Regions from separate parts of the Homo sapiens genome. Here region 2 is linked to region 1. The links come from fine-mapping of genetic effects on gene expression. A gene starts in region 1. The other region holds a variant in brackets. All regions are shown on one strand. Distances are between the middles of the regions. Region 1 holds the start of TP53I13 (tumor protein p53 inducible protein 13). Region 2 holds the start of GIT1 (GIT ArfGAP 1).

Region 1 (11,171 bases):
GGAAAGTCTGTTTTTTTTTTTTCTTTCTTCTTCCCCACCCCTTAATTTTAACTTTGTGGTAACTGAGTGCCCCCGCGTGCCTGCGTGTTGAGTGTGTGGGCGGCAGTGCCGTTCCGGAGGCCTGGTCCATCTGGAGTTTTGAGGGGTGAGGGGACCAGAGCAGTGGGACCAGCATGGGGATCAGCTTCCCTTCCCCACCTGGAGCCAGGGACTGTCCGGGTAGCCAGTTTTGGTCCTGCCAGCTGCCTCCCTGATCCCTCCCCACTCTCGCCCCTTCTCTATGAACTTAAATCAAAAACCACTTCCCTCCATCTCCTCCTGCTCCTGCGTGGAGGGGGAATGTGTGCTGGCTAGGGTGGAGGACTGAGCACCTGAGCCTGGGGCTGGCTCCCCGGGGTCCCCGACTCAGCTGGTGGCTGTGGAGCTGAGTCCCCTCCCCGTAACCTCTGCAAGGCCAGCACCCACCATCACTACCTGCACCTGCTGTGGTCCCACCCTCTGGAGGCCTGGGAACCTGGCTGCAGCCTGGGAAGGCTGGAGAGGCAGACGGTGGGACCCACCAGCTCTCTCCCCATCCCGCTTCTTCCCTGGGGGCCAGGCCCTACCTGTGTGGTGGTGGGTGGGCTGTCAAGACGTGTCATGTACATTTGTATCAAAAATAAAGAAGTGACCATGAGCTGTTTCTGATGCTTAGAGAATGGGGGCTGGAGGGAGGTGGCAGACATGAAGGGTGACTGCAAGTGCCCCAGGACCCCCGCCCTAGGGAAGCCCCTGTGCTGGGAACGTCTGTCTAGTGGAAGAGTTAGTTTGCGAATAACAAAGCTAACATGTATGACGATAACGCCACCCTCCCACGAGCACATTCCTAAAGCCCCATGTCCAGGGACAGGTTGGCCAGCGGGGGCGGGCTGCCTCAAACACCACCTCCATGGCCTAGGACGAGGGTCCGGGTGGGAGTCTCTGTGCGGCAGATGCACAAGCTCAACTCCAGAGTCTACTAAAAATAATTTAATTAGAAACGGAGTTTTGGCAAGGGAGGCAGAAGCGGCTCCTTTTCTCCCCTTGGCCGCCCACTCAGCAACCAACAAGGAGGAAAGCCCCCGCAGTGCTCGGCCAGTGCCGCGCCATCGCCACCAGGGAGCGCCCCGCGCGCGGTCCACGTGGCAGAGGTCGCGGCCTCGCGGCGCGGGGAGGAGCCGCACGCCACAGTGGCAGGTCCCAGGCCGTCACTCCGAGCTCTCGCCTTCCGGGCCGCTGTCCGGCGTGGGCGGGAGGAGGGGTCTCCGGCGCGAGCGCTTGACCCGGCGCGAGGGCTGCAGCAGCCTCCGCTTCAGCACAGCTGTGGGCCGGGCGCCGAGCAGTCAAGGGCGGGAGGGCAGGGAAGCTACGGGGGGCGGCGGGCGACGCGAGGTGGGGCGGGGGCCTCGGGTAGGGTAGGGAGGGAACTCCTCACCAGCCACTGTGTCCTGGCTGTCCGCTGTGGGCCCCCAGTAGATGCTCTCCCCGCGTCGGAAGTTTCTGTGCAGCCGTGTGCAGAGCGTGGCCAGGGTGAGCAGCACCAGCAGGAAGGTCAGGGCCATGGCAGCCCAGGCGGCCTCTTCAGTGCGTGGGGTGGGGCCCCGGGCTGCCCGTGGAGGCGCTGCTGCGCGAGGGGCCGGGGAAGCCTGACTTGAACAGACACAGCCCCCTGGGCTGCCTTGCCCGTTGGGCACCTGAGCCTCTGTCCTGGAGCTGGCATTGCCTCCAGGCGCCCCCGGCAGCAGGGAGACAGTGGGCACAGATGGGGCATTACTCTCCCTACCAGGGATTCCCGCCATGGACTGCTTGGCCTTCAAGCTCCCTGGGGAAGCAGAGGGAAACCTCAGGGCTGAGCGAGTGGGCTGGGGACCAAGGGCAGCCCGCAGCCTCCGCCTCTTGGCACCACTAGAAGAGGGCTGCCTGGGCCCTTGAGATGTCACCTCTGTGCCAGGGGGCCGCCAGCTCCGCAGAGCAAAGGCCAGAGCCAGGGCCTAAGGAGAGGAGAGAGAGCAATCACCCTGCTGCCCCTCTCAGAGAACCCGAGGGCCAACAAGCCTGGGCCCAGCGTCTCTCACCTGCACACACCCTCTTCGGCACAGCCTCCCTCTACCGGGAGTTGGCTCGGAGGGAGCAGGCCCTGAAAGGCTTTCACAGTAGATCCATGCCTTCTTCTTCCTCTGCTTCCTCCTCCGCCTCCTCATCAGCCAGTGGGCAGCCCAGGCTGGCTCTACCCAGGCCATCTCCAGCGCCAGCCCCCATGCAGTCAGCACCAGGGGCTACGAGAGGAGGTAACTGTTAGAGCTACGAGGAAGGTGGGGACAAACAAGAGGAAACCCTTGAATTTTCCATTCCCTGCACACGGGGCCATAGCCTTCTGCCAGGGCCAGGCAAGCGCCTTTCATCAGCTACATACCCGATCCTGCGTGAGGCTGAAGTCAGGGGTGAGGGAAGGGTTAGCCATACAAGCATAGGCCAGGAGGGCAAGCTGGAGCTTCAGCCAGGGATGGGCACAGGGGTGGTAGAGGAAGGTGACATCCTCAGCCTGGAGGAAAGGCACAGAGACATCAAAGCAGGCCCAGAGCCCTCCCAGAGAATCTCAAGTTCTCCCATCCAGGGGACCAGTTTAAAGGTACTCCCAGGATAGCTGGATGGCTCTTCTACCTTCAGGGCCCAGGAAAGGACAAAGGGCCCTGGGTATTGGCATGTACCCACTCTTGCCTCTGAGTGTTCCTTTCACCCTTCCTCTCCATCAAGTGCCACCCTTCAAAGCTCACAGCATGCCTGGATAATCCTGCCAGACTCAGACCACACTCTAGCCATATTTCCCTGCAGGTGTAACGATGGCTCTACAGGTCCACAATCCAAGCCATAAGCAACCCCCAAATGAAGACCATCGATCCAATCTATACAGTCTCCCAAGAGCATCCAAATACAGGGCAGGCAGGCAGCAGGTGCACAATCTCAGGATGGAAATACTCCATCAATCATTCATTATTCTTTGATTGAGTTGACTTGGTGCTCAGTGCTGTGCTAGATGCTGTGGGAGATGCCAAAGAACTCCTGGACTCTGCTTGCAAGGAGTGTGTGAGAAACTCAGGGAAACAACTAATGCAAATAAAACAGCAAACTAATAAAACTTAGTGATTAGTTGTTAAATTATCAGAGATAGATTCAGAGGAGGAGGGGAGGAATAAAGGCTGATGCCATCGGGCAGTGTCTCAGGGGGAGCTGATGCCAGCTGGGACTGGGAAGATGGCTGGGGGAGTATGGCAGGAGGGCAGGGAGCTGCACTCTCCGAGTCAGGATAGGCCAGGTGTGGAGGAGAATAAACAGGAGCAAAGGGGCTGTGGTAAGGGCGAGGCTGGCACTCATTTGTGTGGCAAACAGCCCGACACAACTGGAGAGGAACCAAGGATGTGGAGAGGTCAGACGAAGCTTACTTAAGTAAGGCCTGAAAAGCCAGGCCGGAGAATATGGCCACGATAAGGTGGGAAATAAGGAGCCATTGACAGTTTGTGAACAGAGGAATGACTTCATGAAAGGGCTGTTTGAGGAAAGGAATCTGATAGGTGGCGTGAGGCAACAACTCTTGGCCTGGAGCTATTACAGAGAATTTTTTTTTTTTTTTGAGACAGTCTCGCTCTGTCGCCAGGCTGGAGTGCAGTGGCATGGTCTCGGCTCACTGCAACCTCTGCCTCCTGGGCTCAAGCAATTCTCCTGCCTCAGCCTCCCAAGTAGCTGGGATTACAGGGGTGTGCCACCACGCCCAGCTAATTTTTGTATTTTTAGTAGAGACAGGGTTTCACCATGTTGGCCAAGCTGGTCTTGAACTCCTGACCTCAGGTGTTCCACCCGCCTCAGCCTCCTAAAGTACTGGGATTACAGGTGTGAGCCACCATGCCTGGCCAATTTAAGTTAGGTATTTCAGGCCAGGCATGGTGGCTCACACCTGTAATCCCAGCACTTGGGAGGCTGAGGCAGGCAGATCACTTGAGGTCAGGAGCTCAAGACCAGCGTGGGCAACATGGTGAAACCTCGTCTCTACTAAAAATACAAAATTAGCTAAGCTAGGTGGCACACGCCTGTAATCCCAGCTGCTCGGGAGGCTGTGGCATAAGAATTGCTTGAACCTGGAGGCAGAGGTTGCAGTGAGTGCCACTGCACTCCAGCCTGGGCAACAGAGTGAGATTCCATTTCAAATAATAATAATAATAAGTATTTCAAAGGAAAATTCAGAGGAGCTGGCGATGAAGATGGAGATGCTACCACGCAAGCTGAGCCCGCAGTGTGGAGCCTGGCAACTGGAGGCACACTCCTTGCACGATGCAGCTCTGTACTGTACACGGTGCTGGCACATACCCTCCCTCGCTGCTCACAGGTAGAGACAGAATTAATACCCTCTCCTACAGAAAGCTGGGGCCCACAAAGTCAGGAGACTTCCCGCTGTCTCCTCAGGGAGCTGGAGCCTGGGTTTTTTCCAGCTACTCTCAGAGAGAGTTCCACTCACAGCCACTTGTCCACAGAGCCAGCTACCCAACAGCATCCTGACACAGCATTGCAGATGACAGGCCTATGGCTCACTGTCTTTGAGCCATCTGTCCTGGGGCTGATCTGTCCTGGGCTTGGAGGTGGGGCAGAGAACTAGAACCCTGCCTCTGCCTGAGGGAAGTGGTAAGGAATGGGGCCGATCAGCAGAACAGGCAGCGAAGCCTGCTAGGAGCGCCTGTCTCCAGGCGTGGACACCAAGGGTGGTGGGCCCCTGCTTGTACTCACCTGCCCTGGGCTCACTCGTGTGTAGGTCACTCTTGGTGACACCTATACATGGGGAAAGAACAGAGCTTAGGGCAGTTGGGGGACTCCGTGTGTGTGTGGTGGGGAGGGGACGGCAGGCCCCAAGCGCCAGGCTGGGATGGAGAAGTTGGCTACTGAGGACTGAGGAACCGGCAGAGGTCCTCAGATGGTGACTGTGGAGGGTGCGGCGAGAACAGAGCGGGACTGGGCTAGCCTTTCACATCCCTCTCTCCCTGGGCCCTCCAGGGCTCCTACCTGCGGAGGCAGAGGCCACAGGCTCTCGGGACAATGGGCTCCCGCCTCCTCCGCCGGTCCAGCCATCACCTGTGGGTCCAAAGCGAAGAGTTGGGGCGCTGGACGCGGCGAGGCCCTGCCCTCTCTCTCCCCAGGCCCAGCCCGCCAGCGGAAGAACTCCGCGTCCCCCTCGGCGCGCCACTCCTTCCAGGACGAACTTTTGGCAAAGCGCTTTGAGCTCGCGGGCCGAGGCCTTCCCAGGAGCGGGTCACCTTACCTCGCTGGGACCCAGGAGCCTCGCGAGGGCTGCCAGGAGAAGCAGTTGGGGCGAAGGCGGAGGAGGCGCCATTCCAAGCGGCCCCGGGCCCGGCCCGCCGCCCAGCCGCTCCGCCAGCGAGGGAGCGCGCGCGCCCCGCCCCTCCAGCCCCAGCGCCCCCGCGCCGCCCGCGCCGCCCGCGCGTCCGTTGGCCCTGGGCTCGCGCGCGCCCCTCCCCAGACAGTGGGCCCCCGGTATCGCCCCGCCCCAATGCCCGCCCACAGCAGCGGAGTGTGCGCGCACGCGTCTTAAACCCGAAGCCGGAAAAGTTAAGTGTAGGAACCGGGTCAGCGCGCAAGGCTCAGTAGGGCAGGCGGGGGGCCCCTTTCCTCGTCCGGGGATTCGTCTCAGCAGGTCCCTGCAGTCTGTAGAGCAGCTGCACAGCTGCAGCGCCTGGATGAGATCGTGGAGCGGAGTGTAAGGCCGGAAATGGAATCCCTGTGGACCGGGTGGCCCAGGCTGGGGAGACGGGTACACTCCCCTGGCAAACCCGCTTCAGATTTGTCGGTGTGACCTGCAATGAGAAGAGGGGCAGAATCATGAAGTCAGGAAGAGCTGCTGAAGGGAGAGGGTCCCACCTCTGGAGCTTCGCCGTCGGCCCACCCCGCTCCCGCCCTCGCAAATAGGGTCCAACGCGGAGGAGCCTCGGGAGGTGTCTCCGCTCCCCAAACTCTCCAAACCCAGAAGCCCCGGGAGGCCGGAGCTAGCCGAGAGGCTGCTGTCTTCCCCACCTCCGCCGTCGCCCAGCGGTGGCAGGCGCGCGTCTAGAAAGAGATTGGTCGCCGCGAGATGGGGACGCCACAGGCCTCACCCCCAGGAGGTGCGCTGGCCGGCCCGCCCCGCAGCGGGGCGCTGGTTCTGGTTCCCTCTCCAGGATTTGGGGGGGAAACGTGGGTAGAGAGCGAGGGTCGAGATGCCTATCCCAAAGCTTGGAAACAGCGAGAACGTGTTATTTCCGTGGTCTCCCATGCACCCCGGTTTACGAGGCGTTCCTTGTAGGTCGGACGGGCATCCCTGTCGCAGGGCGCCTGAGTGTGTCCTTTTCTCCGACTGACTCTCGGAGGCTTGGGGCTGCTGTTTCTGGGGAAGCCACTCCCGGGCTGAGGATTTCCTTGATGTGGAGCCCCGAGCTCGCGGGGACGGGGGCGAGGAGTCCACGGGACCCGCACTGATGCAGGCGGGGAAGCAGCAGCCTCCCGCCAGCGGCTCAAGACGCCGCGCTCGACCTCTCTAGCCCAGTGCCGGACCCCGCCCAGCCAAGTTATTGCGGGGTTGCGGGGCCGGGCGGGGGAGAGCAGGGCCGCCCGAGGGCAGAGCGCGCGCGCGGCCGCCGCCCCACGGGGTCCCGGGAGCCGGCGCCCGGAGCTGCGACTTACTCACCTCTCCCTTCTGCTTCTTTTCATCGGCCTCTGAGGGCGCAGCGCCCAGGGTCTGGCGGAAGACCCTGATGACAGTCGGGTCCCCAAGCCTCGGCCTCCAGTCTCCCCACGTCTCCATGGCCAACACCGCTCTCCCCGGCTCGTGCCCTCCCCACTCCCTTCCGGCTGCCGGCGCGCCCTCCCTCCCTGGTGGCCCCGGCTCCTCTCACCCTCTGCTCCCACTTGTTGCAATTGCTGTACAAAGGGCCGGGGCGGGGGTGGGGGGCGGGCGAGGGCAGCCGGGCCCGAACTGGCTGCCTCTGCCCGGCCACGGCCAATCCAGAGCGCGCCCGCGCGGGAGGGCCCTGGGCAGCCGCCGCCGGCGGGCGGAGCCGCGGGCAAAGCGCGGAGCTCGCCGAGTAGACGGCCCCGCCGCCCGCTGCCCGCCGGGGCTCTCCAGCTTCGCCATGCCGCCGTGGGGCGCCGCCCTCGCGCTCATCTTGGCCGTGCTCGCCCTTCTCGGCCTGCTCGGCCCGCGGCTCCGGGGACCCTGGGGGCGCGCCGTCGGAGAGAGGACCCTGCCGGGGGCCCAAGACCGAGACGACGGGGAGGAGGCGGACGGCGGAGGCCCGGCGGACCAGTTCAGCGACGGGCGCGAGCCACTGCCGGGAGGGTGCAGCCTTGTTTGCAAGCCGTCGGCCCTGGCCCAGTGCCTGCTGCGCGCCCTGCGGCGCTCAGAGGCGCTGGAGGCCGGCCCGCGCTCCTGGTTCTCCGGGCCCCACCTGCAGACCCTCTGCCACTTCGTCCTGCCCGTAGCGCCTGGGCCTGAGCTGGCCCGGGAGTACCTGCAGTTGGCGGACGATGGGCTAGTGGCCCTGGACTGGGTGGTAGGACCTTGTGTTCGGGGCCGCCGGATCACCAGCGCCGGGGGCCTTCCTGCGGTGCTTCTGGTGATCCCCAATGCGTGGGGTCGCCTCACCCGCAACGTGCTCGGCCTTTGCTTGCTCGCCCTGGAGCGCGGCTACTACCCGGTCATCTTCCATCGCCGCGGCCACCACGGTTGCCCACTGGTCAGCCCCCGGCTGCAGCCTTTCGGGGACCCGTCCGACCTCAAGGAGGCGGTCACATACATCCGCTTCCGACACCCGGCGGCGCCGCTGTTCGCGGTGAGCGAAGGCTCGGGCTCGGCGCTGCTCCTGTCCTACCTGGGCGAGTGCGGCTCCTCCAGCTACGTGACAGGCGCCGCCTGCATCTCGCCCGTGCTGCGCTGCCGAGAGTGGTTCGAGGCCGGCCTGCCCTGGCCCTACGAGCGGGGCTTTCTGCTCCACCAGAAGATCGCCCTCAGCAGGTGGGTAACGGAGGCCGCAGACCAGCATGGAAAGAATAGAGGGCCTGAGCTGGCTAAGAATCAGAAACAGCTATGCATAGCATTGGAACAGGCGTGGGCCAGTTTGGGCAAAGTTCTCTGAACACATCTTCCAAAGCCTTCCAAACCCTGTAATCTAGACAGAACCGGGGAAGCGGGTTTAAAGGTCATCGATGGACTCAGCTAGTATCGCTGTGCTAGAGCAGGGACTCCTAACCCGGCCCCTTGCCTCATCTCGGCACCCCCTGCTGTATCCTAGCAATCTGAGCACCTGGCCCACGACAGCAGAGATACCTGACATTTACCACTTAGCCCACAGCTTAACAGCTCAGCAAAGAGCACTCTGGAAGCAATTGCAAACGATTATCTGCCCAGAATGTTTACTCACAGTCTCTGAGCCTGGAGGTGACAGGAATCAGAAATATGGTGGCATTTGAGGCCAGGTGCAGTGGCTCCCGCCTGTAATCCCAGCACTTTGGGAGGCCAAGGCAGGAGGATCACTTGAGCCCAAGAGTTTGAGACTAACTTGGGCAACATAGGAAAACCTGTCTCTACAAAAATTTCTTTTTTTAATTAGCCGGGTGTGGTGGCATGCATCTGTGGTCCCAGCTACTCAGGAGGTTGAGATGGGAGGATCACCGAAGCCCAGAAGTTCGAGGCTGCAGAGAGCCCTGGTCAGGCCACTGCACTCTAGCCTGGGTGACAGAGCAACACCCTGTCTCAAAAAAAAATGTTATATATATATATACACACACACGCATATATGTAGGCATTTATTAAAATTATTATTTTTTAAAAGTATTTTTTTTTTTAGACAGTCTCACTTTGTCACCCAGGCTGAAGTGTAGTGACATGATCTCGGCTCACTGTAACCTCCACCTCCTGGGTGCAAGCTATTCTCCTGCCTTAGCCTCTGAAGTGGCTGGGGACTACAGGCGTGCACCACCACACCCAGCTAATTTTTAATATTTTTTTTGGTAGAGACGGGGTTTCTCCATGTTTGCCAGGCTGGTCTGGAACCCCTAATGTCAAGTGATCCGCCTGCCCCAGCTTTCAAAGTGCTAGGATTACAGGTGTGAGCCACCGTGCCCAGCTGTTTGTTTGTTTTTTGAGGCAAGATCTTACTCTGTCGCCCAGGCTGGAGTGCAGTGGTGGAATCACCACTCATTGCAGCCTTGAGTTCCTGGGCTCAGGTGACATTCCTAGCCTGCACTCTGGCTTTCTTAGGAGATGGCAGAATGAGGTCGAAGTCATTATGGCAACAGTGTGGTGTAGCAGAAAGACCTGGGATGTGGGGGCCAGACCCCCACCTCAGCCTCCCGAGTAGCTGAGACTACAGGCACATGCCACCATGCCCGGTTAATTTTTGTATTTTTCATAAAGATGGGATTGTGCCATGTTGTCCAGGCTGGTCTTGAATGTCTAGACTCAGGGAATCCACCCGCCTTGGCCTCCCAAAGTGCTGGGATTATAGATGTGAGCCACTATGCCTGGTCAGAGATTAACATCTAATTTCAACTGTCTGAGGCTGGATTGAGCTATTCAAAAGACGGAGCTGCTCATCCTGGCCTCCTTGTCAGGATGCCAAGCCCTCTCCAGGGGTCTAGAAACAGCAAAGATGTTCCCTGTTACCCAAAGCAGTTGCTCTGAGGCCCCCATTTAGGAATCCACCCAGTAAATTAATGACCAACTCAATTGCTTCCTCTGCCAGGCAGCACACTCTCTAGGAATATCTGCCCCAGGTATACCTGATCAACATCACACTCATGTGACATTACCAGGACAGGATGTTAGTTTAAAAAGCAAAAATAAAAACAATGAATGCAACCTAAAGTCAAATGTGAATTATTAGCAGAGGTGTCACCTGCTGGTTTGGATACTCTGAGCAGCAAGTTCTTCTAGGAGCAGTTTAGTAGGTTACAGTTCATAGCAAGTTCTCCACAGAGGGCCAGAAGTTGAGGTTAGGAGAACTGTCAGCAGCTGTGAAGTCAAATGCTGCCCCTAGGGCACATAGACAGGTGCAGTGATGCTGTGAATGACAGGCCTAGTGGGCACCGTCACACAGGAAGGAGGGAGGAACCCATTGTTGTGCTGAGAAATGCCCACCCATGTGGCTGGATCTTCCCACTTCCCTAGAGAAGCCAGACACCTGCATTTTATGTGAAATCTTCTAATTTTATTATTTTATTTATTTATTTATTTATTTTTTGAGATGGAGTCTCGCTCTGTCAGCAGGCTGGAACGCAGTGGCACGATCTCGGCTCACTGCAACCTCTGCCTCCTGGGTTCAAGTGATTCTCCTGCCTCAGCCTCCCAAGTAGCTGGGACTACAGGTGTCCGCCACCACGCCCAGCTTATTTTTGTATTTTTAGTAGAGATGGGGTTTCACCGTGTTGGCCAGGATGGTCTCAATCTCTTGACCTCGTGATCCACCTGCCTCAGCCTCCCAAAGTTCTGGGATTACAGGCATGAGCCACCGCGCCTGGCCACTTTTATTATTTTATATTATTTTATTTTATTTTTTGAAATGGTCTCTCTGTGTCACCCAGGCTGGAATGCAATGGTGCAATCATAGCTCACTGCAGCCTTGACCTCCCAGGCTCAAGCAGTCCTCCCACCTCAGCCTCCTGAATAGCTGGGACTGAGCCACCATGCCAAGCTAATTTTTTTTTTTTTTTTTTTTAGAGATGGGTTTTCGCCCTGTTGCCCAGGCTGTTCTCAAACTCCTGGACTTAAGTGATCCACCCACCTCGTTGGCCTCCCAGAGTGTTTGGATTACAGGCGTGAGCCACCACAACCAGCCTTATCTGGTTTTAAATGATGGCCATGAAATTAAACGTTTTCGAAGCCCTAAATGGCCAAAGAAAGCCTCTGTGGACAGATCTGGCCTGCGGGCTGTCTGTCTGTCTCATCTGCTGTCACCTGATGTTCTCATTCTTCCCTCTCTTTCCCACCTTCCCCACTAAACACCTCGCTGCCAGGTATGCCACAGCCCTGGAGGACACTGTGGACACCAGCAGACTGTTCAGGAGCCGTTCCCTTCGAGAGTTTGAGGAGGCTCTCTTCTGCCACACCAAAAGCTTCCCCA
Region 2 (11,171 bases), 24 kb before region 1:
GCAATCCAGGCCTCCCAGCCCTGCCCCAGATGCTGCAGCCGCAGCCGCTGCAGCTAATAAGACCCTAGGGAGCTGGCAGGCCGCTGCCTGGCCTCAGGGCTCCAGATGCTGCCTCCACCTCCCCATCAGGTGCCTCAGCTCCAGGCTCCAGAGAGCGGCTGGCACTTCCTTGCAAGCAGGGTGCTCCTCCCCATCCCCACACCTCAGGAGCACTCCCCAGGGAGGCCTGGATGGCTCAGCACCCCATACACCCCATGCAGAACCCCATACACTCAGCCAAGCTCCAGAGCAGCTCTCCCCACAAGCCCAGAGTGCCGCCTGCAGTGTAAGTGGCACCTTGCCCTGGGCCCAGGTAGGAGAATTCATTAATCTCCTCAGCAGAGGCCTCCAGCTTCTCCTCAGCAGAGGCCTCTAGCTATTTAATTGCTGGAATGAAAAGGTTTCCCATGAAACCCAACACCCAGCCCTCCCCACCAAGAGAACGGAGATTCCTTATCCCAGCAGGCCTCAGCTGGAGTCAAAAGGTGGAGTCTTTGGAGTTTTGTAGCTGGGGGTCCCTGGGCAGAGAGCCTCCCTACCTCCACTCAGGCACACACACCACACTCTAGTACACACTGGTACCATACAGATACACACTCGTACGCTCATAGGTACTCACGTGTGCCCTTAAGTGTACAAGCACATGCATGCCCAGCTGCCTTCTGGCCCTGCAGGAGTCCACTCCTGTGTAACGTGTGTGTGCGTATTTGCACAGGAACACCCCTCACACCCATGTGCACTAGCAGGGTACTTTCCAAACTCCTTTAGCATGAGCAGAATCCTTTTGTTAAGGGAAGTATGAAAAGCATACATCTCATGTATGGACTAAACACAGTGCTTGCGAGGAAGGTGAGGGACGCAGAGCCTGTGCTCAAGGTGGTGCCTGCTCAGCCCCTTCCCCAGCCCACGAGGAGGAAGGCAGGAGTCTGGTGTAGTCGTTGCTTGACCTCTCCTGCCCAGCGTGGGGTGCAGGGGCAGGTCTGCCTGAGCTCATTCAAGGGGAGGGAGGCAGGATGCATCCTCAAGCTGCGTAGGAGGCCACGGGCTGTGGGGACCGCACCCTGGACTTCTCCCTCCATGTCACCCCTCCCATCCTGCCCTTGCAGCCCCTCCCCCTCATCCCAGAACACATTGATTTTTGGTTTCTGGGGTTTGTGGCTCCCTCTCCCGAGCTTCCTAGCTTACCAGCTGTGGTGATGCCCCACATCCAGGACTGCCCAGTGTAGGCAAAGGGAGGGGTCTGAGGTGCTCCTCGCACATCCTGGGCCCCACAACCCATCTCCCCTGCCTCTAGGTCAGAAGGGTGAACAGGGAAAGCAGGAAGCAAGCCCACGGTGGAGAACGCCCCAGGGAGAAGGAAAATGATTCTCTGGGACCACAATCTGCCCACTTCAGGGTTCTGGTTGCCAGGGGCAGAGTCCTGCTCCCCAGGCCCAGCCCACACATGTCCCTCCCACGGGAGCTGCACAGGCTAACCCTTCCCCCTGTTCCCACCCCAGGGAACACCAGGAACTCACGACTCCAGAACCAGGACCATGCCCAGCTGGCCATGCCAGGCAAGGGGGAACTGGCATATTCCCTGGCTTACAACCCTGTCCCCCCCGACCTGGCAGAGAACATGCATAGCGGCAAGCAGGGCACCGGGCTGGCATCACAGCACTGCTGGGTGCCCCTTCCCTTCACCAGGCACCTCCTATCTGCCCATCACTCCCTGCTTCCAGCCTCCAGCAGAGCAATTTGGGGCTGAGCAAAGCCCATTAACCTGCTCTGAAGGTGGCCATGCTGGCCCCCTCCTCAGCCAGCTGCACTGCCAAGCCTGCCCACGGAGGGCCTCTGCGGGGCTTTCTTGGAGTGAAGAAGAGGCAGCTATGCCAAGCCAAGACCAGGGAAACCTGGCTCCTGAGTGCTTGAGGAAAGCCGAGCTGTTTCTGTGGCGGCTGGTACCAGGGGGACTAGAGGCCAGGGACCCCTGGCTGGGATGCCAGGGTTCCACAGTGCTTTTCTCATGATGTTAGGTGGCTGTCCCCAGGTCCCCCTTGCAGAAAACAGAGCCTGGTGCCCTGGGGAGTAGGCAGTGTACATCTGGATACAAGCCTCACTCTGGGCCAGTCCTCGAGAGGGGAGACAGCTAGGGAACTCTCCCACCTACACGGAGTGGCATTCCTCTTTTTGGCACGCCTGAGGGAAGGAGAGGACTGGCCTGGCTCCTCTGTGGTTGAACAAGGGTTAACCTCCACCAGTGCCCTATATTCCCCCTGGCCTGGATCCAGGACAGGCAGTGTCCATTTCAAGGAGACATTAACTCACTGGGGCAGGGGTAGGGGTGAATCTGGGACCTTGTTTCTGAGGCAGCCAGAGGGGTGGGAGAGAGAAACACATGAGCAGCCCCCAACACCTCTACCTGCAGCGGCTCCGGTGCCCCCCACCCCAACCTTACCCCAGCAAGATGGCCACCCACTTCAGGATTATCAGCAGAGAGGCCTGCTGGAGAAGTCTTTTCTCCCAGGGCATTCTGCCTCTCTCCAGTCTCTGCAGTAAAAGGACCACCCACCCTCAGGCAAGGGAGTGGGACTGAGGCATTCTGGAGATTCAGCCTTCTGCCTAGTGATCCTTGGACCCCTGGGAAGTTCTTCCCACATGAGGCTTGTCTTCTTTTGCTTTCAGGGAAGGAAAGCAGAGAAGAGCCAGCAGAGGCTGGCTGGCCATGTCTTAGCGCTTTGCACATCACCCTGGAATTTCCTGTTCACACTTGCTTCACCAGAACAGAGACTCCTTGAGGGCAGGGGTTGATGCCCTGTTTGTTCATCTGTTTCCTGGGGGCACTGTGACCCACTCTCTTTAACAGGCTTCTCGTGGCTGCAGAGCACTGCCTTTATGATAGATAAACAAAGACAGGGTCTGAGGAGTTCAGTCTGAGGAGAAACTCGGAGAGTGCTGGCATAGGCACAGGTAACAGGAAGTGGCCACCCAGACCGGCCCAGAGGCCTGCGGGCACAGGTCACTCGCATATTTACAGGGACTGCCATGCAGAGCTGGATGCCATGCAGGCCTGGGGGCTGGCTCAGCGTGGGACTTCAGAGACACATCCTGACCCCCAGCCTGCTCAGTCCGATGGCCTGCCCTCCACCTCCATGCTTCCCTTGGCGATTGCACAGCTCCTCAGACTGAACTTCTCATGACTCAATAAGCAGCCCTCAGAAGGTAAATTCCCACAGCGGGCAACTGCGCTAACCACCCCCAGCCCATGGCCCCAAGGTCTCAGACCCAGTCCAAAACTGGGGTTCTCAGCCTGCAGCAAGCCATGGGACCCGGGCCCAGCTCTGGCTCTTGCAGCCCACCCTGGAGGCGGGGGGTCATCTCTGCCATGAGTGCCTACCTGTGGCCTGGGTGCCAAGGGCAGAAGTGGCAATCTGTGACCTGTGCCTGCCTTTGTTCTGAAGCATGGCCAGAAGACATCCTGAAGCATGGCCAGAAGACATCCCCCCTTCCCCTGTTTTCTGGAGACCACTGCCCAGCCCAAAGCTGGTGACCCACGTGGCCTTACTGACCAGCAGAAACCAGGGAGCCCACCTGGTGCGCAGAACCTCAAGTCCTTCCAGCAGCCAGGGCCCCTCAGCTTCCTCTGCGCCTAGAAACCAGGCCCCAGCACCAGAGGGCAGGAGAGCGCTTTTCAGCACCTGGACAAGGCCCTTGGGGCCTCCCAAGAGGGTCTTTCTCCACTCCCTGTTCCTGAGCTGGGGCTGGGCTCTGAGAGATCCAAGGATCTGCCCAGTTTGAGAGCTAAAAGAGAAAGCGCTCACCGTTGGGGAGAGGGCGCTGGGTGGGGCTGGGGTGCCTGGGAGTGTGACACAGCCTCTTCCCCATTCTTGACCTATGGCCCCCTCCCCACGCAAGCCTTTCCCACCTCCGCACCCTCACTCGGGAGGTGTCGCCGCTCAACTGGCTGGGGCGGACTCTCCCACCACATGGAACACCGACACAGCCCGCAGCCCCTCCCTGCAGCCCTCACTGCCCCGGCGGAGGAGGGGCACAGAGGCCTCTACTCTCATCTAGGTGAGTCCGAAACACGTGTGGTCCCGCCCGTCCCGGCCGGAGGGGATCACCCTTTCCCGGTCAACAAGCACAAAAGCCGCGGCCGCAAACAAAGACGCGCCGCAAACTCGCCAGGGAGGCGGGACAGCCCGCGCCGCACCCCCTCCCCAGGCCGGACGGGCGTGCCCGGCCGCGGGGTCCCCGCGGCGCCCCGAAGGCGCTCCTACCTGGCCCGCGCGGACCTCCTTCTCCAGCTCGCGGTGGCGGTTGTGCCACACGAGGTAGTGCAGCGGATACTTGCCCTCGGGCCCCTTCCTGGCGGAGGCGTTGGCGGGGATCATCGCCCGCTCCTCATGCCGGGGCCGCGGCGCCCGGCCGGGGAGGAGGGACGGCGCCGGAGCCGGGGCCCGGGGCCGCGGGGCGGGGGGCCGGCGCTGCCTGCTCGCGGGGCTGCGGCTCGGGCATGTGCGAGCGGCGGCGGGCGGGGGCGGCGCGCCCGGCGCGGTGCGGGCGGCGCGGGCGACGGGCGTCCTCGCGAGGCGGCGGCGGCGGGCGGCGCGGAGAGGCCCCCACCCGCCCTGGGAGGGAGCGGGCACTCGGCGGCGCTGCGCGGACTCGCGCTCGCCTCCCACACCCCCGCACACAAAGACGCCGCTCGGCGGAGGGAGCAGGCGCCCGCAGCGGGCGCGGGGGCGCACGGGACGCGGGCCCCGGGGACGCCGCCGCAGGGACGCGCGCCCGCAGCCCCCGGGTCCCCACAGCTGCATAGCCCGGCCCTCAGCCCGAGCGGCCGGCGCGGGATACGGGGATGTGGGGATGATGGGGAGAGAGGAAGGGGACCAGGCGCCCCGGGTAGAGCTTGTCAGCTCAGCCCCGCGGCATCATGGGGTTTGTAGTCCGCCTCGTGAAACTGGGGGTGGCAGGTGGCCGAAGAGGGTCTGCACTGTCCCCGGATCTCGTGGGAGAGTGGGCGGGGAGTCAGGCCTGGCCCAGACGCGGGCGGGGCCCTGACGCCAGGTGGGCTGGGACGCACCTCCCCCGCTGGCATTTTGCCTTTTGCTGGGGAAGTGGGGGGGCACGGGCCTAGGTCGAGCGTTTGGGAGACGGGGTGGAGGTGTGGTCTTCAGAATTGAGCTTGGGTCCCAGGGGCCATGAAGAAGGATCCGGATTCCCAGAAGAGAGCGTCTGATTGGGAACTCCTGAGAAAGGTGTGGGGCATCAGTACCAAGGGTCATTGGAGCAGCCAGGGGTCTGGCCCCTGGAACATTTCTGAGGAGTCTTCCCTGCCCTGTTAGAAAATTAAACTCCATCTTCCACACATGTCATTGGAAACAGAATGTCCAGTAACGCGGGAAAGATGGTCCCTTTCCCCCCGCACACTGTCCCCAGCAAGAACCAGAGTGAGGTTGGACAGAAAAAGCAGCAGGTGGCAGCTCCGTTCCTCCACCCAGCTGGCCCTTCAGGAAGGGAAGTGACTGATTCCAGAGACTGTCTCCTTCCTGAATGACCCCAGGGTGAAGAGGTACTTCCAGAATGGTCCCTGCAGAGGGTGTGGTAAAAGTTGAATTGGCCTCTCAAGCGCCAATTGCAAGGCCTGGAAGGACCAAGAGGCTTGGACCAGTCCCTGGAGGGAGGGGACTGTGATGTCAGAGAGACCAGAGTTCGAATAGCTCCAACTGCCTGACCTTAAAAGAGCAAACTGCTTAATTTTTCCGACTTTCTCGGTCCACTCCCCTTCAAAATGAGAATCTAGATACTACCTCCTGGGGTGAGCTAAGGATAATGACTGCCCTGGAAACAGCGCCTCCCTCCCCCAACCAGGCGGGCCGAGACAGGTGGCGGGACCAGGCACGGTGCCTTCTTGAGCCCACCTCAGAACAAGGCAGGAATAAGGGATTCCACACCGGCCCTACTTAAAACAACAATCCAAGAAGTGTTTGTGTGGGAGGTGCCAGCAAAAGCTTGCAAACTCTCTCAGGTTTCTTTGTGTGGTCTTCCCTCCTTCCTCCTCCACACCCTGTGGTGCCAGGCCCCAGCGGGAAGAGATGAGGGAGGAGCGGGCTGCCTCGCCCCTTTCTCCCGCCTGGGAGGAGCCAGCTGGCGTCTCCGGGGGCCCGGGACCGCTGCCCGCCTGCACCACCAGGGGTCAGCAGAGTGTCGTGGCTGCAGCCAGTGCAGGGGAGGGGGCTGGCGCGGTTGAGGGGCATCTAGGAGTGGCCGGGAGCATGCCTGTGCATTTCCTTATTAAATTGTTTTTCGAACCTTGTGTGTGATTCCACTGTAGCAGTCCTGCTTCCTGGGGTGGTGACATCTCCACGGGGGAATCCAGAAACCCTTTTATCTCCAGTCCCAGGCCCAGAAGTTTGGCTGTGACGGGGCTGGGGGAAACAAAGTTTGGACGATGTGTCCGCGCCAGGGCCACTCCCAGGTAGTCTCTGAGCCAACCAGGAGATGGGGAGTGGGGTGGAGGGGTAAGCAGAGTGAATCATCCTTCTTCCCCAGCAAAGCCCAGGAGTCCGAGGACAGGGGGAGTTCAGGATGGATTGTGGGGAGTTGTCGATTGTGGGGAACTGTCCCCTGGGCGGCCGTGTTCTTTTTTTGCCAGGCGGCGGTAGACACTGAACCCAGGTCGCTTGCGCTTCGGCCCGCGCTCTCAGCTGCCACGTGCTCGAGACGCGCCCACACAGCGGAGAAACAAAGACAGCCAAGCGGCAGGGCTGCCAGCAGCCTCCTCGACATTTAATAAATGAAATTCCATAGCTGGGGGTCGATCGGGGGTGAACGGGCGGCCACCGCTCGTGGACTGAGCGCCTGGCACGGGCTGCCTGGCCACTCCTCCCGTCTCACTCCCCCCGCCCCTTACCCCCTTCCCGCTGAGGCCACCAAGCCCATGGACTCTGGTGAGAGAGCAGCTCGGGGCGGCAGGTGGTGCTCCCCCCTACACACCAGCTAGGTATCGTTGCTTGCAAAAGCCCCACCAGCTGAGCGGCTGGCTGTCGAGGGAGGGGAGGCCTGCAAGATTTTTTTAAGGTGCAATTATAAATAAAGCCCATGGATCGCGATTTCAAACAAACTTGTCAATCTGGGCCGCAGCAAAAGGCGATGGAGGCAGCTTTGCATGTATTTCGGGTGGTGTGACTCATGAGCATTACTTGTCTCCCCTAGGGAAGGAGCCTGCCCACCCACAAATCACTGCCGCTCTGGCACCG[T/C]TGGGATAATCGACCAACTTGAGCACCCCTGCCAAAGGACTGCCCCCATCTTAACAAGCAGGAGTCTCTGACTCTTGGAGAACCCCTCCTCAATTGTCACCACTGACCTGGCCCCCAGGTCTGGCCCTGGGGACCTCTACCCTCTCCCCACAAGCAGAGTGCCCGGGCCTTTTGCTGCTGCAGGGATTGGGGGTTGGGTACACGCGCGGCACACGCGTATGGGGGCGCATGCTCAGTGCGGGGGCTGCGCTCATGTGCGGCCTCTACCTAGGCTCCCTGCCCCCCAGCCCACCCACGTCCCTCACCTGCCTTGCCTTTGCCTGCCTCGTCGTGTGAAGTCCAGGAAGAAAGGCCGTCACCTGAAACGGCCCCTCTATGTTATATGCACCCTTTCTGGACACACACACCTCTGGTGGCCCAGAAACACCGTGGGTGTGTGTAAGGCGGATGACAAGTGGATGTGAGTGCACACAGGCACAGTGGTCACTCCTCGGGAGGTCTTTAAAAACCGCCCAGATTCTCTCCTCTCTGGATGGAAGGATGCATGGAGAGATAGATATATTTTTAGTCCGGAGGCAGGGGAATACACTGCCTGACCTTTCTGGCACCTGGGCGTCCATATTGTTAGCAGTGGGCGTATTCAGCAAGAGTGTGACACATACACACACACCCCTGGACACACAGATGTGGACACCTACGGGACAGGGACGCACACCTCACCCCAACCAGAGATAGACGGGTACCCCAAGGCACAGCCCCTTTGACCTGGAGCGGGACTTGGGCCTCCAAGTCCTTCTTCCCTAATCCCCACCCTCGCCGTCCGTGGGCCCAGCGTCCCCCGGTCCACCCCACGCGGAAAGTGAAGGGGAGGGGGCTGTGAGGGTGACTCACATTGCCTCCGGGCCAGGCGAGCGCTGCAGCGGAGGCCAGGGCCGCAGGCCACGCTGCCCGCCGGGGCCGGGCATCTGCCGCGGCCCCTTTAAGCGCCCCCGCCCCCTCCTGCCCGCGCCCGGGCTTCCTTTCTCTAGGGGGCGCGGCCGGCAGCGCGCGGCGGGGCGGGGGTGCGGCCCCTCCCCCTGTGGGCAGGGCCTGCGCCGCTTCCTGCAGAAGCGGCCGGGAGCCGCGCAGGGGGCGGAGAGAGGAGCCGCGAGCGGCGGCGGGGCGGCGCGGGGCGGAGGGCGCCCGAGGGCGAGCGGGCAGGCGGGCACGGCGGGTTCCGGGCCAGCCCCGGGGCGGACGGTTGGCCGGGCGCGCGGAGCCTCGCCGGGGCCTCGCCGGAGCCGGGCCGGGCAGCAGGGGCCGCCGCCGCCGCCCGGGCCCGCCGCCCGCGCCCCCCACGCTGGCCCAGAGGGCTGCGGCCGCGTCGCCGCTGAGGATGTCCCGAAAGGGGCCGCGAGCGGAGGTGTGTGCGGACTGCAGCGCCCCGGGTAAGCGCGGCGGGGCCGGGGGCGGGACCGCACAGCCAGGCCGCCGCCGGGCGGGCGCCGGGGCCTGGCAAGAGCGCTGTGCGGGGCCGGAGGGCTGGGCGGGGCGGGGGGCTGCGGCCTCCAGGCTGGGCCCCCGCCTCGGCCACTGCGGAGCTGCGCCCTTGGCGGGAGGGCCGGCCTGGGGTGCCCATGCTCCCTGGAGGCCGTGGACTAGCGAGGAAGGACGTTCCCGGCGCCGCCTCCCGCTCCTCGGTCTGAGGGAGGCGGGCAGCTGGCTGCTCCTCCACCTCCATCTCTGTATCCGACGGAAGCGCCAGCCTGGGGTGGCAGGAGGGCCGTGGCGGAGGCCGTCAGGGCTTGGGAGGTGGGGGCGAGTGTGGTTTTATGTCATCTCAGTGCCACCCCCGCGTCTTGCACCTGCTGCTCGCGTGGTCGGTACGCCTGCCGGGGTGGTGGAGGGCAAGGAGCAGAGGGCCGGGCAGATGCGCCAGTGGGGCCTGAATACCGTCTCCTCAGGAGCAGATGAGCGGTGGCTACTCCCAGGACTCCCTGCCTCGGGTTCCTAAGGCTAGCGCTCCTTGCCGGGCCTGGCGTTCAGGGCCAGTCTAGACCCGGGTGTCTTCTCGGGAGGCATCCCCAGGCCTGCTGGTGGTGACTGGGAACAGCTCGGCTGGACCCTGCTGTTCCTGTTCACCGGTAAGGCCTGCTTGGGAAAGTGAGCTTGGCATCAAGCTATCCTGGGTGCGGGCCCCTCCCTGTCCCCTAGCCCAGTCTGGCCAGAAATGGGTGGGAGGCCGTGCCGAGATTCCCCGTATCCTGCTGGCTTCCTGGCCTGTCTCCTGGCTGTATTTACATGGTGGTTCCCTTCCTTTTCCTAACAGAGTTAGGACTGGGCTGGAGTGAAACCCCCCAGGCCTGCTGAGGAAGTCAGGGGTAATGATCCAAGAGGCTGCTCCCTTCTGATGAGGGAGGACAGCCAGTGACGGGGCTCTGCAGCTGGCCTGGGAAGGAAGCTCTAGCCCACATCCATTCTTTCTTTAGCAAAGGAGCTATCTCCCTGGTAGGCCCCTGGGCAGGCTGCGGAGGTCCGTGAACTCTAGCGGGGCTGTGGGCATGATTAAGAGTGAGAGTATGGGGTGCTGGTTTGTGGGCCCATAACTTTCAGCCACCCCTTGAGCAGGCCCAGGACCCCACCGGTTGAGCCTCACAGATGCTCTGGTGGTTCTGGGGGTGCCAAGCTAGAGTATTTGGGAACTATGACTTAGCAGGGCTTGGGCACAAAATACTCCATAGGTGGTTATGACCAAGGCCTCCTAGGGGCTTATCATGGTTTAGAGGGCCCTGGGGTTGAGGGTCCATACCCCTAAGAAACTGTGACTCCGTTCCCCGAGCTGCAGGCAGGTCTGGGGATGGCAGGGCTGAGGATGCACCTTGCCTTATAAATGTCTCCCCACTGTTCCACAACTCCGTGGGGTAAGCATGGCATGGAATGTGGAGGAGAGTCTTAGCAGGCGCCCAATCGGGGGAGTCTGGGGCTTAGTGTTGCCTTTGTTCCCAGCTTACTCTGTAATCCCAACAAGACTTTCCTCACTGTGGGGTCCTCAGCTTCCTCAATTCAGAGGCAAAGAAGTTGGAGTAGAAATGGTTTTTGGGGGGCTGCCATCTCCGAATCTGTGGTCTGATTCTGGGGTGGAGGGGTGAAGGGCAGCACCAGCAAGGCAGTTGTCCTTTGTATGTTGCGTTGAATGTCCGACCACAGCCTCTGGATGCCCAGTGGGCTCAGGGAGGAATGGTGGGCATCAGATGTGTTGGATTGCCCAGCTCCTCCTCCCAGGTCCTCATCTGTCAGAGGAATTTGTGCCCCAGATGCCTCCTTTCCCCTGATTCACAATAGAGGTCAGGAAGGTGGTGAGAAGGTGAGGATGGTGGGGTGGGGAGGATGTGGACAGTCTTACTCATCAGCCCACCTAGCACCCAGCGAGGTGTCCAGCACATGGCAGGCACTCCCTGAGTGTTTGGCTGCTTGTTAGGACCCTGGCTGGCTGCTTGGGACTATCCCACACCTGGACCCTAGGATGCTGGCCCTGGCATGCAGCGGCATGTTTGGTCTGGGTCCTGTGGCATCTCAGGCAGAGAGGCATGAGGGTACCCAGCAGTCCGGAGTCCAGATCCAGTGCCAGCCCCATGGTGTATCGCTCCACCCCAGGGTCACAGGCTTCTTTTATTATGATAGGAGCCCTGCAGTCCTAACCACAGGAGTGGGGCCAGGGACTTTTTGTGCTTGGTTAATTTGGGGGGTCATGGAGGTCAGAGGTGAGATGCAGCCTGTCCCCAGAGAGCCCCATCCTCCCTCTGCTCCCGGGCATGGGCACACAGGACAAGTGTGAGTGTGTTGCTAGGCAGCTGGACATGACATGGCTGCTCTGGCAGCTTGTGCCACCTCGTCAGGCACCGTATGTGTTCC

Evidence for each region.
Region 2: its variant is fine-mapped to the expression of TP53I13 in monocytes (BLUEPRINT, PIP 0.95).

Annotation. Positions count from the first base shown.
Region 1 is chr17:29,562,980-29,574,150 of GRCh38, reverse strand. TP53I13 (tumor protein p53 inducible protein 13) reads right to left here and starts at 5,450. Exons shown (of 7, transcript NM_138349.4): 1 at 5,321-5,450; 2 at 5,065-5,133; 3 at 4,792-4,833; 4 at 2,432-2,560; 5 at 2,094-2,294; 6 at 1,454-2,009; 7 at 994-1,339. The coding sequence starts at 5,392. The coding sequence ends at 1,227. ABHD15 (abhydrolase domain containing 15) reads left to right here and starts at 7,114. Exons shown (of 2, transcript NM_198147.3): 1 at 7,114-8,065; 2 at 11,065-11,171. The coding sequence starts at 7,185. It overlaps GIT1 (GIT ArfGAP 1), which reads left to right. Exons shown (of 20, transcript NM_014030.4): 20 at 1-676. RefSeq lists silencers at 1,191-1,260, 5,214-5,573, 6,574-6,833, 6,924-7,543 and enhancers at 4,410-4,910, 5,994-6,043, 8,064-8,173.
Region 2 is chr17:29,586,863-29,598,033 of GRCh38, reverse strand. It overlaps GIT1 (GIT ArfGAP 1), which reads left to right and starts at 8,386. Exons shown (of 20, transcript NM_014030.4): 1 at 8,386-8,707. The coding sequence starts at 8,656. It overlaps ANKRD13B (ankyrin repeat domain 13B), which reads right to left and starts at 4,902. Exons shown (of 15, transcript NM_152345.5): 1 at 4,299-4,902. The coding sequence starts at 4,412. RefSeq lists enhancers at 3,714-3,783, 7,406-8,305, 9,205-10,104 and silencers at 6,108-6,297, 8,058-8,537, 8,798-8,987. The variant T/C (reference allele first, on the strand shown) is at 7,281.